Regions from separate parts of the Homo sapiens genome. Here region 1 is linked to region 2. Evidence: fine-mapped expression QTL. A gene starts in region 2. The other region holds a variant in brackets. All regions are shown on one strand. Distances are from middle to middle.

The links. PIP is the estimated chance that this variant, and not a neighbour inherited with it, causes the effect.
Region 1: its variant is fine-mapped to the expression of PSME4 in lung (GTEx, PIP 0.97).

Annotation. Positions count from the first base shown.
Region 1 is chr2:54,490,713-54,496,091 of GRCh38, forward strand. The region is part of intron 1 of SPTBN1 (spectrin beta, non-erythrocytic 1); the gene reads left to right. It also overlaps the pseudogene C9orf85P1. Among named protein-coding and RNA genes, the nearest start is that of SPTBN1, 37 kb to the left of the region's middle. The variant ACT/A (reference allele first, on the strand shown) is at 2,132.
Region 2 is chr2:53,968,460-53,973,838 of GRCh38, forward strand. It overlaps PSME4 (proteasome activator subunit 4), which reads right to left and starts at 2,534. Exons shown (of 47, transcript NM_014614.3): 1 at 2,084-2,534. The coding sequence starts at 2,325. It also overlaps a transcript of ACYP2 not described here. RefSeq lists enhancers at 1,382-2,146, 2,413-2,707, 3,003-3,052 and silencers at 2,203-2,402, 2,377-2,538, 2,413-2,802.

The sequences.
Region 1 (5,379 bases), 520 kb after region 2:
GATGGGAGGGATGGGGACAGCTTAGTGAAGAAGGATGAGGCTGGAGGTGACTCTTGAAAAATGATTAGTGTTAGTTGGAAAGATTAAGGTGTGGGAGAGTCCCACGCAGGGGAACAGCAGGCAGAAAGCCAGGGAGAGAGAAAACAGTGTGTTTTGAGGACCTCTTCTGCTGTGGCTGGAATAAAGAGGGCTGTGTTGAAGAGTGAAGGGAGCTGAGGCCAGGCAAAAACTCTTGCATGCCTTGAGAGGAGGTTTTACCCAAAAGACAAGTGAGGAGGGTGGTGAAACATTTTAGTCAAGCTTGTGTGTTCTTCAAAGCTCGTTTGAGCTCTGGCATGGAAGAGGATGGATTTCAGTTGGGCAAAATTCAGAGCAGGGAAACCAGTCAGGAAGTTGTGGCAATAATTTGGTTAAGAAACTCTAAGGGACCTTACTAAGGTCAAGGTTAGACTTTGTAAATTTTGGGGTCCAGAAAAACTGTTAATAAACTTAACCGACAGGAAGATTCCCCTGGCATCATAGCCTGTCACTGTGAGGATTTACCTTCTTTTTCACATAGTAATAGATTGTGAAAAGTCTCCAAAACCATACTCAAGGATTGAAGGTCACATTTTCTCTTTCGACCATTCTACACTTAGGTAGAAAAAAATTTCATTACCAACTAGATAATAGGATTTGAGCTGTTGTGGTTGACATTCTTGATGAAGGACTGATCAGAAATTCTTGGTCATCTTATGTAAGAATAACTTCTTGGAGTAAATATGTTCCTGAAGAGCTGCCATTTAAAGTAAACTTTTGAATATCATATCTTAAATGCTTTGTAATCATAAACATTTAAATTCTGTGGTTCAAGTAATCATTTTTAAGTAATTTACTTCTAATTTCTCTCTCTTTTTTTTTTGGAGACAAGGCTGTCACCCAGGCTGGAGTGCAGTGGTGCAAACACACTTCACTGCAGTCTCAACCTCCTTGGCTCAAGCAGTCCTTCTGCCTCAGCCTCTTGGTGTGGCTGGGACCACAGATGCATGCTGCCATACCTAGCTAACTTTTCTTTTCTTTTTATTTTTTGGTAGAGACGAGGTCTCGCCGTGTTGCCCAGGCTGGTCTTGAACTTCTAGGCTCAGGCAGTCCTCCACCTTGCCTCCCAAAGTGCTGGGATTACAGTCATGAGCCACTGCACCCAGTTTGTTTCTCTCTTTTTTAAATCCAAATTTTTCTATTAGGCTTTGCAAATAGGCCCTTAAAGAAATAGGCAGCATGGCTGGTAAACAAATTTTGTTCTTTAGATGTTTCCAGAGAAATAATGTGGTATTTTAAGAGCTTTTAACAAGAGACCTCAAGATAATTATTTTTAGGATATACCATAATTTAAAAAATAACTTCTGAATATGAGAGTAATACATTAAAGAATATTCCTGTAATCCTAGAGCTAAGCCATGCTATAATTCTGGTCCAGTTTACGGTTTGCGCTCACATATACACTCACATTTTTATACCCTTTGTTTTTATGGGTTGTATTCATGCTAAAAAATTGTTTTGAAAACACTTTTTATGGCTGTATAAAGTAGGTGTACCCTATTTCTAAAGTAGGTGTGCCCTATTACTGGACATTTAGTTTGTCTGCAGTTGTTTTTTTGTTTTTTTTTTTTTTTGCTACTATAGAAAAGCACAGTGATGAGCATCACTGCATTCATATTTTTATCTGAAGTTGCCTTTTCCCCTAGATCCCTGAAAGTGGATTTGCTGGGTCTGAGGAGTTTTACTTAACACCTTTTTCAAAGGCTGTGTCATTCCTGTGACCTCACTGCAGGTGGTGGACCTACTGCCCTTTGCACCAACTGACTGACTGCTGTGGTAGATGCCTTCGAACTTAGGCAAGCTAGTAACATTTTATATGGGGTTTGGTTTTTACTGAAAAGGTTTGCTTCTGGAACATTTATGTAAGTTACAGCAGTCTTCATGCTGAGGACACATGGACACGTCTCTTATGTCTCAAGCAAAGATACCCCCAGCCTGATGTAGAAATGTAATTGACTACTGAGTGGATTTCCTTTCATGTGGAATAGAATGAGATTTATTGGCTTGTATAAACTAGAGCAGAAAAGTTAATAGAAATAATAAAAGCTATCAG[ACT/A]CTGTTTAGCTCTGTTATGCTATTACACTCAGATCCTTTAAAAACTGTGTTTAGAAAATTGTTGTGCAGTTTAATATGTCTGCAGAATATTGAATACAGTGTCCATCAGAAAATCTAATCCTTTTTTAAAGTTTAGATAGAACTAAATAACATATCTTTTTTTTTTTTTTTTTTTTTTGAGACAGGGTCTCACTCTATTGCCCAGACTGAAGTGCAGTGGCACAATCAGAGCTCACTGCAACCTCCGCTTCCTGGGTTCAAGGGATTCTCCCACCTCAGCCTGCTGCGTATCTGGGACCACAGGCACACACCACCATGCCTGGCTGATTTTTGCATGTTTTGTAGAGATGGGGTTTCGCCATGTTGCCCAGGCTGGTCTCAAACTCCTGGGCTTCAGTAATCCTCCCACCTCAGCCTCCCAAAGTGTTGGAATTACAGGCATGAACCACCGCACCCGGCCTAAGGAGCATATCTTGATGTTTCTAGTTTTCTTATAATTTCCTTCTGTGTTCTGGGTTGCTCTTACATATATATTCTATAAATTGTGTGTTTTGTGTTTTCTTTTTTGGGGGGTTGGGGGAGACAGTCTAACTCTTGTCACGCAGACTGGAGTGCAGTGGCGTGATCTCAGCTCACTGCAACCTCCCCCTCCCAGATTCAAGTGATTCTTGTGCCTCAGCAGAGTAACTGGGACTACAGGTGTGTATCACCACGCCTGGCTAATTTTTGTATTTTTAGTAGAGACAAGGTTTTGACATGTTGGCCCGGCTAGTCTTGAACTCCTTGCCTCAAGTTATCCACCTGCCTTGGCCTCCCAAAGTGTTGGGATTACAGGCATGAGCCACCACACCTGGCCTTATTTTTATGTGTTCTGAATTTAGGTTAAAATTGAAGAAGAGGGTCCAAGACTAAGTGCCAACATAGATATTTGCAGGTGAAATTGCTTTTCTTTGTGTAGCCCATGTTGTATTACTTAATAGCCTCTTAAACTGGAGACCCCTGATACCTTACATTCAAATGTGAGTGATGATAGGGTGTCTATCAAAGACAACAGAAGTTAATATAACTTCCCCAAAGTCACGTGAGTGGGTTACTCTCTTTACTTGGAACACATGCAAAGAAAGGGTCCTCCTTCAACACTTGAAGATAATCACAGTGTCATGCTCTTTCTCATAAATGCCACTGTAGAGAGTACAGAGAAAAATGCAATTAATGGTGCTACCCAAATCCTGAAAAGAATGAGGTACGGTGTAGGAATTGGACAGCAGACAGAGTGCAAGTTTTTACATAATTGTAATTAATACAGACATGACTTACTTGAGAAATTTAAAATGTGAATATTTTAAAAATTACAGAGGATGATTATTCACATTATAAAGTGACTCATCATCCCTTTTAAAAAGGACTTATCTTTTAAGAGGATATTCCTCTGGTGCATTTGAGTCCTTGTCTGCTCATTGTTTTAAACAACTTGCAGTTTTTTTAACAAATTACAGTATGACCTGTGATATTACCCAGACATTCAATTCCGAGGTATTTAACTAGAGATACCTAGGAATGAAATGAAAACACATATTCGTACAAAAAAAATACACAAATGTTTATAGCAGCTTTATTTGTAGTAACCCCAAACTGGAAACAACCTACATGTCCATCATGGGTGAATGGATAAACAAACTGTTGTAGCCATTTAATGGTATACTATTCAGCAGTAAAAACAAACTATTGGTATATGTAGCAACATCAGTGAATCTGAGAATAATTATACTGGGTAAGCAGCCAGACAAAAAAAGAGTTCTAACTGTATGATTCCATTTATATAGAAATTACAAACTAATCTCTAGCGACAGAAAGCAGATCCATGGTCGTCTGGAGGTGGAGAATAAGGGTAAGTGAGGATGGGCCAGGAGGCATGGACTCCAAAGAGGCATGGGAAACTTAGGAGTGATGGGTATGCTCATTTTGTTGATGGCAATGATGGTTTCACAGGTATATACATAGGTCAAAACTTGCCAAATTGTGTAATATGCACATTGTATATCAGTTATACCTGAATAAAGCTGTTTTTTTTTAAAAAAAAAAAAATGTCCTGAAAAAAGTTCTGTCTTCCCTTGTCTGCCAATTGCACCGTTCTTTATATCTCATCCAGCCTGCTCACAGTCAAGAACAGGGGCAGAAGTGGGCTGACAGGTGTAGTGCAGTGTGTGGAATGCTGTGACAGGTGTGGGCACAGAAGGTACAATGAAGACCCCCTGGAGGAGGTGAGCTTGAGGCGAGTGTAGAGAGGGCATCTCAGAGGCAATTCTGAGAATCATAGGAGGTTGCAGGTGTGTGGCAGAGGTTGGTCTGGAGGACAGCAGGGACCATACATTTGGAGCATTGTTTTGAAAGCGTTGTACATCACTGACGGGTGGTAAGCAGGGGACAGACAAAATCAACTCGGCTTTGCCCACTCTGGGAAGATGAAGAGGCAGGAATCCCAGGTTCAGAGCTCAAGGAACCCTTATGTGATGCCACCCCCTCAAATCTGTTTAAATCATATTAGGAGAACCTTGTTGTCCAAGAGGGCTCTGTCTTGCTAGACAGTTCTGCGTTGTCCAGGAAACTGCAGACTACATTGGAATCCTACCTGTACAAATACTTAAGATGTTTCATTTCAAAAATAAAGTGTTCTCTGTAGAAATTAAGGAAAATACACTTAAGAAAAATAAGAAAATTTAAATTGCCTTTAATCCCACCACCCAGTGCTAAATACTTTTAACATTTTGGTGTATATTGTTTCAGATATATGTATGTTTTAAAACAAAATTAGAATCATAATTTGCATGTGTTTTTACCTTTATTTCCTCTGAGCATTATTCCATGTTTTATGTAGACATAAAATATCATTGTTTTTATTTGATGCATGAGAGTCTACATATTATATGTATGGTGATTTATTTAACCAATAACCTCTTTTGGGGATTTTTTTGGTTGTATAATTTTGTTTAAAAATTCTGGGAAAACCATAATTACTTTATTAAAAAGCAAGTAAATCAAAGAATATAGTTAATTTTTTTATTAACAGGTGCAGTTTCTTAATTCATATTAAAGAAAAATAGCCTTGGTCTAGTAGACATTTTAACTAAATGAAGGGAGGATGGTCCCCTTCTAGAAGTACACATGGGCTTATACAGTAGTTCTTTGTTACCCAGTGATAATTATTTCATCTGTGCTATTCCCAAAAAGTAACCATCTATGGGAACT
Region 2 (5,379 bases):
GTTTTGGCATTATTCAGATGTTCACTTATGCAACACAGAAGGCTTAAAAAACAACAAGCACAACTATGAACAGGTCACCTTAACATGACTTAGGAAAAAAACACACCCAAGATCACAACATGTCCCACCGCATTCAAAATGTCTCATAGTGCAATATCAAGAATCAGTTTCCAGCATCTAACCACTATTCCAAAATAAAATTCTACCCAGTAGCATTTCTTGCTGGTTATTTAGCTATAAATGGTTATGGGTTCATGGGTATTAAGCCATCAGCTATCTGCAATCCAGCCCTAAACACCAAACATTAGCTCCATTGTTATTTTTAGCCCTTTCTAGGTACAAACTTTTATCTAATAAGCCAAAACAATAACAAAACTCGGAGTGCTAATTTACCAAACTTGTTAACAATAAATACTTTAGAAAACAATGCTTAACTATGCCTTGGTAGATTCTAGGTTTATAAATCCAAAGCAGATATGCCTTCACACCATGGCATATTTATATAATGTACACTAAAAAAAGCTGTTTGCGTCCCCAAAAATGGTAGGTATTCTCTGGCAAGTCTAATCCAAGTGATTAAAATGGGGAATTACTGTAACAAAGTGACTATTTTTACTGTGCCTGAGCAACACAAAAACCTAGGAGTCTCACTTGAAAAAGCATTTGGATTTTAACTATTTATAAAATATTCTTTTTTGACTAAACGTGGTTCTCCCTGTTGCATTCCTGCTTCTGCCGCCCCTCACCTCCATTCTCCTAAGGATCCTAACACGAAAAACTTCATTATACTCTAGTCAAGGGGAGAGCTGTTAACCTTGACATTTTATGATCACTCTCTGAAGAGGGCAAATTACATGTTTTAGTTTTGCTTCTTTTTAATTAAAAAGGTCCCACCCACCCCTCAAGTGGAAATGAGAAATTTGTCAGAGGCCCCTTAATAATTGGCAGATGAGAATCATCCAGTGAATATACACAAAACTATTACAAAACCCTGAGTCATCACTCAGTTCAATCAGCAGCTTTGGGTAAACACTGAATGAGTGAGTTATGTCTTGTGTGTTCACCCGTCCATACCCACATGCGTGAACATACCATGTTACTAGATTTTATGTACAGTTAACCAAACAAGATACAGCAAAATTCTTTCTTAAAAAGCTCTTCGGACACAGTAAAGATGCCCATCCAGCAAGTAAATGTAACCTTTTTTCCCCCACTGTATTTTCACTCGTTTTTTTTTTTTTTTTCCTAATTTCAGTGACACTATAGTTTGAAGCTAGTTTACAAACAGAACTCCTGAAACTGATTTAGGTAATCTCTTAATCTGAGTAACTCAAAAAATTAACACAAGCCTGATACTAATATCGCCCTGGACATCCTGACAGTGCTCTTCCCTACTTTCCTCAGTATCTTAAATGTCTCTCCAAAAGAAATGTCACAACAGGAGCAACACACAATCCAAAACAACACTGTCCACATAAGACGTTAAGCTCAAGAATGAGGTCTGACTTTAAACGACCCTTTTCGATCAACTCCGCCAGGTCTGAGAGGGCCCCCAAAAAGCAAAACCCTTAAGTTTCCCTATGGTCTTCTCTCCATTCAGAAAGTTACTAGACGCCAACGGAGATGCGAAGAGGCGGGGATCGTAGGGGAAGGAAGAACCGGAGGAAGCAAGGAGACAAGTCAAGGAACTCCCCCAAAGACAAATTCTCTTTGCCCCGCCTCTCCCATGCGCAAAAGTCCACGGAGGACCCTTGAGAAAGGCTCACCTCTCTCCCTCGGGGCCGGGGCCCTTGGGCTACCCAGGGCCCCCCAGGTGGGAAGACAACAACCCGAACACTTCGGGAGAAGCAGATGCGGAGGACGTAGAGGGATGGTAAAGACCCGGGAAGTCCCGTAGGAAAGTGGCAGGGAGGACGGCTTGAGTACTTCACAGGCTCTGTCACGACCCTGGGATCACCGCTCGGGGACAGCTCCAGCGAGGACAGAGCTAAGGGTCCAGCCCTCTGGACAAAGAGCAACCATCCCCGACACCTCTCACTGAGCCTTTCCCCCCGGCCCGGCCCGCAGGCCCGGGCACACTTACGTGGAGAGTTTCCTGGTCCAGAAGAGGCCCCCGGGCCACAGCTCTTGGAGCTGCACGGCCCGGCCCAGGTTGCATTTGATCTGGGCCAGCTGCAAGTCGGACTCGGCGTCTAGCCGCTCCGCGTAGGGCAGCAGCTTGTTGTAGACGATCTCCTTCTGCGGGACGAAGCCCCGCGGGCCCGGCTCGGGACGCCCGCCCGGCTCCGGGGGCTCTCCGACTCCCGCCCGCTCGGCCGGCTCCATGAGCCCAGGGACACCCCCCCCACCCCCTCCCACCCGAACCCTCCCCGGCCCCCACCCCTCTCCGGGCTCCGCCTCCTCCGCGTCTTCGTCGCCCTGCGGCCGCTGGCGGCCCGTCGCCCTCGGACCGATCGCTAGGCCCCCTTCCCTGGCCGGCGTGCTGCTGGGCCCCACGCGGCTCTCAGTTCGTTGGCGGCGGCAGCGGCCGCTCTGCCCGCCCCGCACCGGCTCTGCTGGTGACGCTGCAGCCGCCGGGCCCAGAGGTTCCGGACCGGCCTCAAGTCACTTCCGGGGCGGGGCGGGGCGGAGCGACGGCGTCGGGGGAGGCGGTGGTGGCGGCAGCTGGAGCCCAACGGGCTGCGCCTTCTTCGCCGTGGGCCCGGCTCGGAGCCCCCACCCCAGGCCTCACCGGCCCAGCGCGAGGCTGCCTCACCGGAAACACGAGGCCGAATTCCAAGCTATTGTCCTGCTTCGCCGGGGGTCGCGCACTCCAAGCGGCAGCCCACTGGAGTCCCAGTCGCCACGACAGGCGGCAGCCAGGTCGGCCTGGTCCCCCTAGCCGAGCAGCCCCGGCTTCTGGGTTAGAGGGGTTTATGGAAAAGCCTACGTACCCACTTGCTCCTTATAGATTTATTTACTCCATCCCGCTTGTTCCTTATAGATTTAATTTTTCTGTCCCCTTTAAGTCCCCATCTTTCTGGTATTCTGGCCGCCATCATTCCAAAGAAGAAAATAGTTACTCGCTGAACAAATGCTATTTGAACAGCTGTTTTGTGTGTAAGGCGCTCAGTTTAGGCTATTGAGATAGAAAGTTTAACCTGGTTTCCGCCCTCCCAAGGACTTAGTCTAGCAGAGATAAAGACGTGAATTACAAGATAATGCTCTTAATTGCTAGATAAGTACAAGAATCCTTAGGAACTCTACAAAGAAGTTGAAACTAGGGGGTTTGAGAGGGTGTCATTTTCCTAGAAGTGATACTTAATTTAAGCTATGAAGGTTGAGTGCAAAGTTGGTTAGAAAAAGGAGGGAGGAGGACACGTATTTCAGCTGAGAGAACAGCTTTGACGCTGCAAGCATGTATTCTAAAAATTCAAAGTTCAAAATAGCGTAAGAGAGGGGACGGAGAAATGAGACTGAGAAGGCAATCCTAAGGAATTCAGAGCTTTATCCTAGAGACAAACTTCCAAAAGATTTTAAGCATAGCAGTGGGATGATATAATTTACATTTTTTAAGAATTACTCTGGCGGCCGGGCGCAGTGGCTCACGCCTGTAATCCCAGCACTTTGGGAGGCCGAGGCGGGCGGATCACGAGGTCAGGAGTTCGAGACCAGTCTGGCCAACATGGTGAAACCCCGTCTCTACTAAAAATACAAAAAAGTTAGCCGGGCGTGGTGGCGGACGCCTGTAATCCCAGCTACTCGGGAGGCTGAGGCAGGAGAATCGCTTGAAACCGGAAGGCGGAGGTTGCAGTGAGCCAAGATCGCGCCAGGGCACTCCAGCCTGGGCAACAAGAGCGAAACTCCGTCTCAAAAAATAAAAGGGCCAGGCGCGTGGTGGCTCACGCCTGTAATCCCAGCACTTTGGGAGGCCGAGGCGGGTGGATCACGGGGTCAGGAGATGGAGACCATCCTGGCTAACATGGTGAAACCCCGTCTCTACTAAAAATACAAAAAAATTAGCCGGGCATGGTGGCGGGCGCCTGTAGTCCCAGCTACTCGGGAGGCTGAGGCAGGAGAATGGCGTGAATCCGGGAGATGGAGCTTGCAGTGAGCCGAGATCGTGCCACAGCACTCCAGCCTGGGTGGCAGAGCGAGACTCCGTCTCAAAAAAAAAAAAGAGTCACTCTGGCTTCGTCTGGAAAATGGGTTGGAACTGACAAGATTGGGAACTGGAGGACCCTTTAAGGTGTGACATAATCATGGCCTGGATGTCAGTTGAAATTGAGAGCTACTTCAGCAGAATGGCTTGGGCTTAGTAGTTGACTGAAAGTGAAAAATTAAAAAGGAAAGAGACAAGACGACGCTGGGTAGATAGGTGAAGTCCTTCACTGAGATAAAGAACACAGCAGAAACAGCTTGGGAGGCAGAATGCCTATGGGATGGGTATGTTGACATATGTATCAGGAGGGTGATCTAAACTGAGATGCAGATTAGCGTGTAGATGGACGACAGGAGGGAAGGAAATATACAGTATGAAAAAATAGGGCCCTTCACAAATCTCTGAGGAGCCCCACATTTAAGGACAGACAGAGAAAAGGAAGGTAGGCCACAAAGAATATTCACAAAAAGCAGAGAGAGGAGGAGTTCTAGGAAACTGGGTGTCTCATGGAGAAGCGAACAATCCTACCTTAGGTAGCTAACAGGTCAAATGAAGTGAAACCTGAAAGGGTTTATTGGATAGTTTATTGATAAAGCGCATAAGAACAGTGTCGTTGGAGTGTAGAATAGAAATCTGATTATGGTGACAAAGGACAAATGGGAAGTGAATAAATAGAGGCAGCAAATATGGACAACCTTTTAAAAAATAATGGGGTAGGGAGAGCCGGAAAGAGATGAGTGTCAGGCCTCTGAGCCCAAGCTAAGCCATCATATCCCCAGTGACCTGCATGTATACATCCAGATGGCCTGAAGCAACTGAAGATCCACAAAAAAAGTGAAAATAGCCTTAACTGATAACATTTCACCATTGTGATTTGTTTCTGCCCCACCCTAACAGATGAATGTACTTTGTAATCTCCCCCACCCTTAGGAAGTTTCTTTATAATCTCCCCAACCCTTAAGAAGGTTCTTTGTATTTCTCCCCACCCTTGAGAATGTACTTTGTGAGATCCACCCCCTGCCCCCAAAACATTGCACTTAACTCCACCACCTATTCCAAAACCTATAAGAACTAATGGTAATCCCAACACCCTTTGCTGACTCCTTTTTCAGACTCAGCCTGCCTGCACCCAGGTGAAATAAACAGCCATGTTGCTCACACAAAGCCTGTTTGGTGGTCTCTTCCCACGGACGCGCGAGACAATGAGGAGGTACTTGGAATAAAAGGAGGGATTTTTG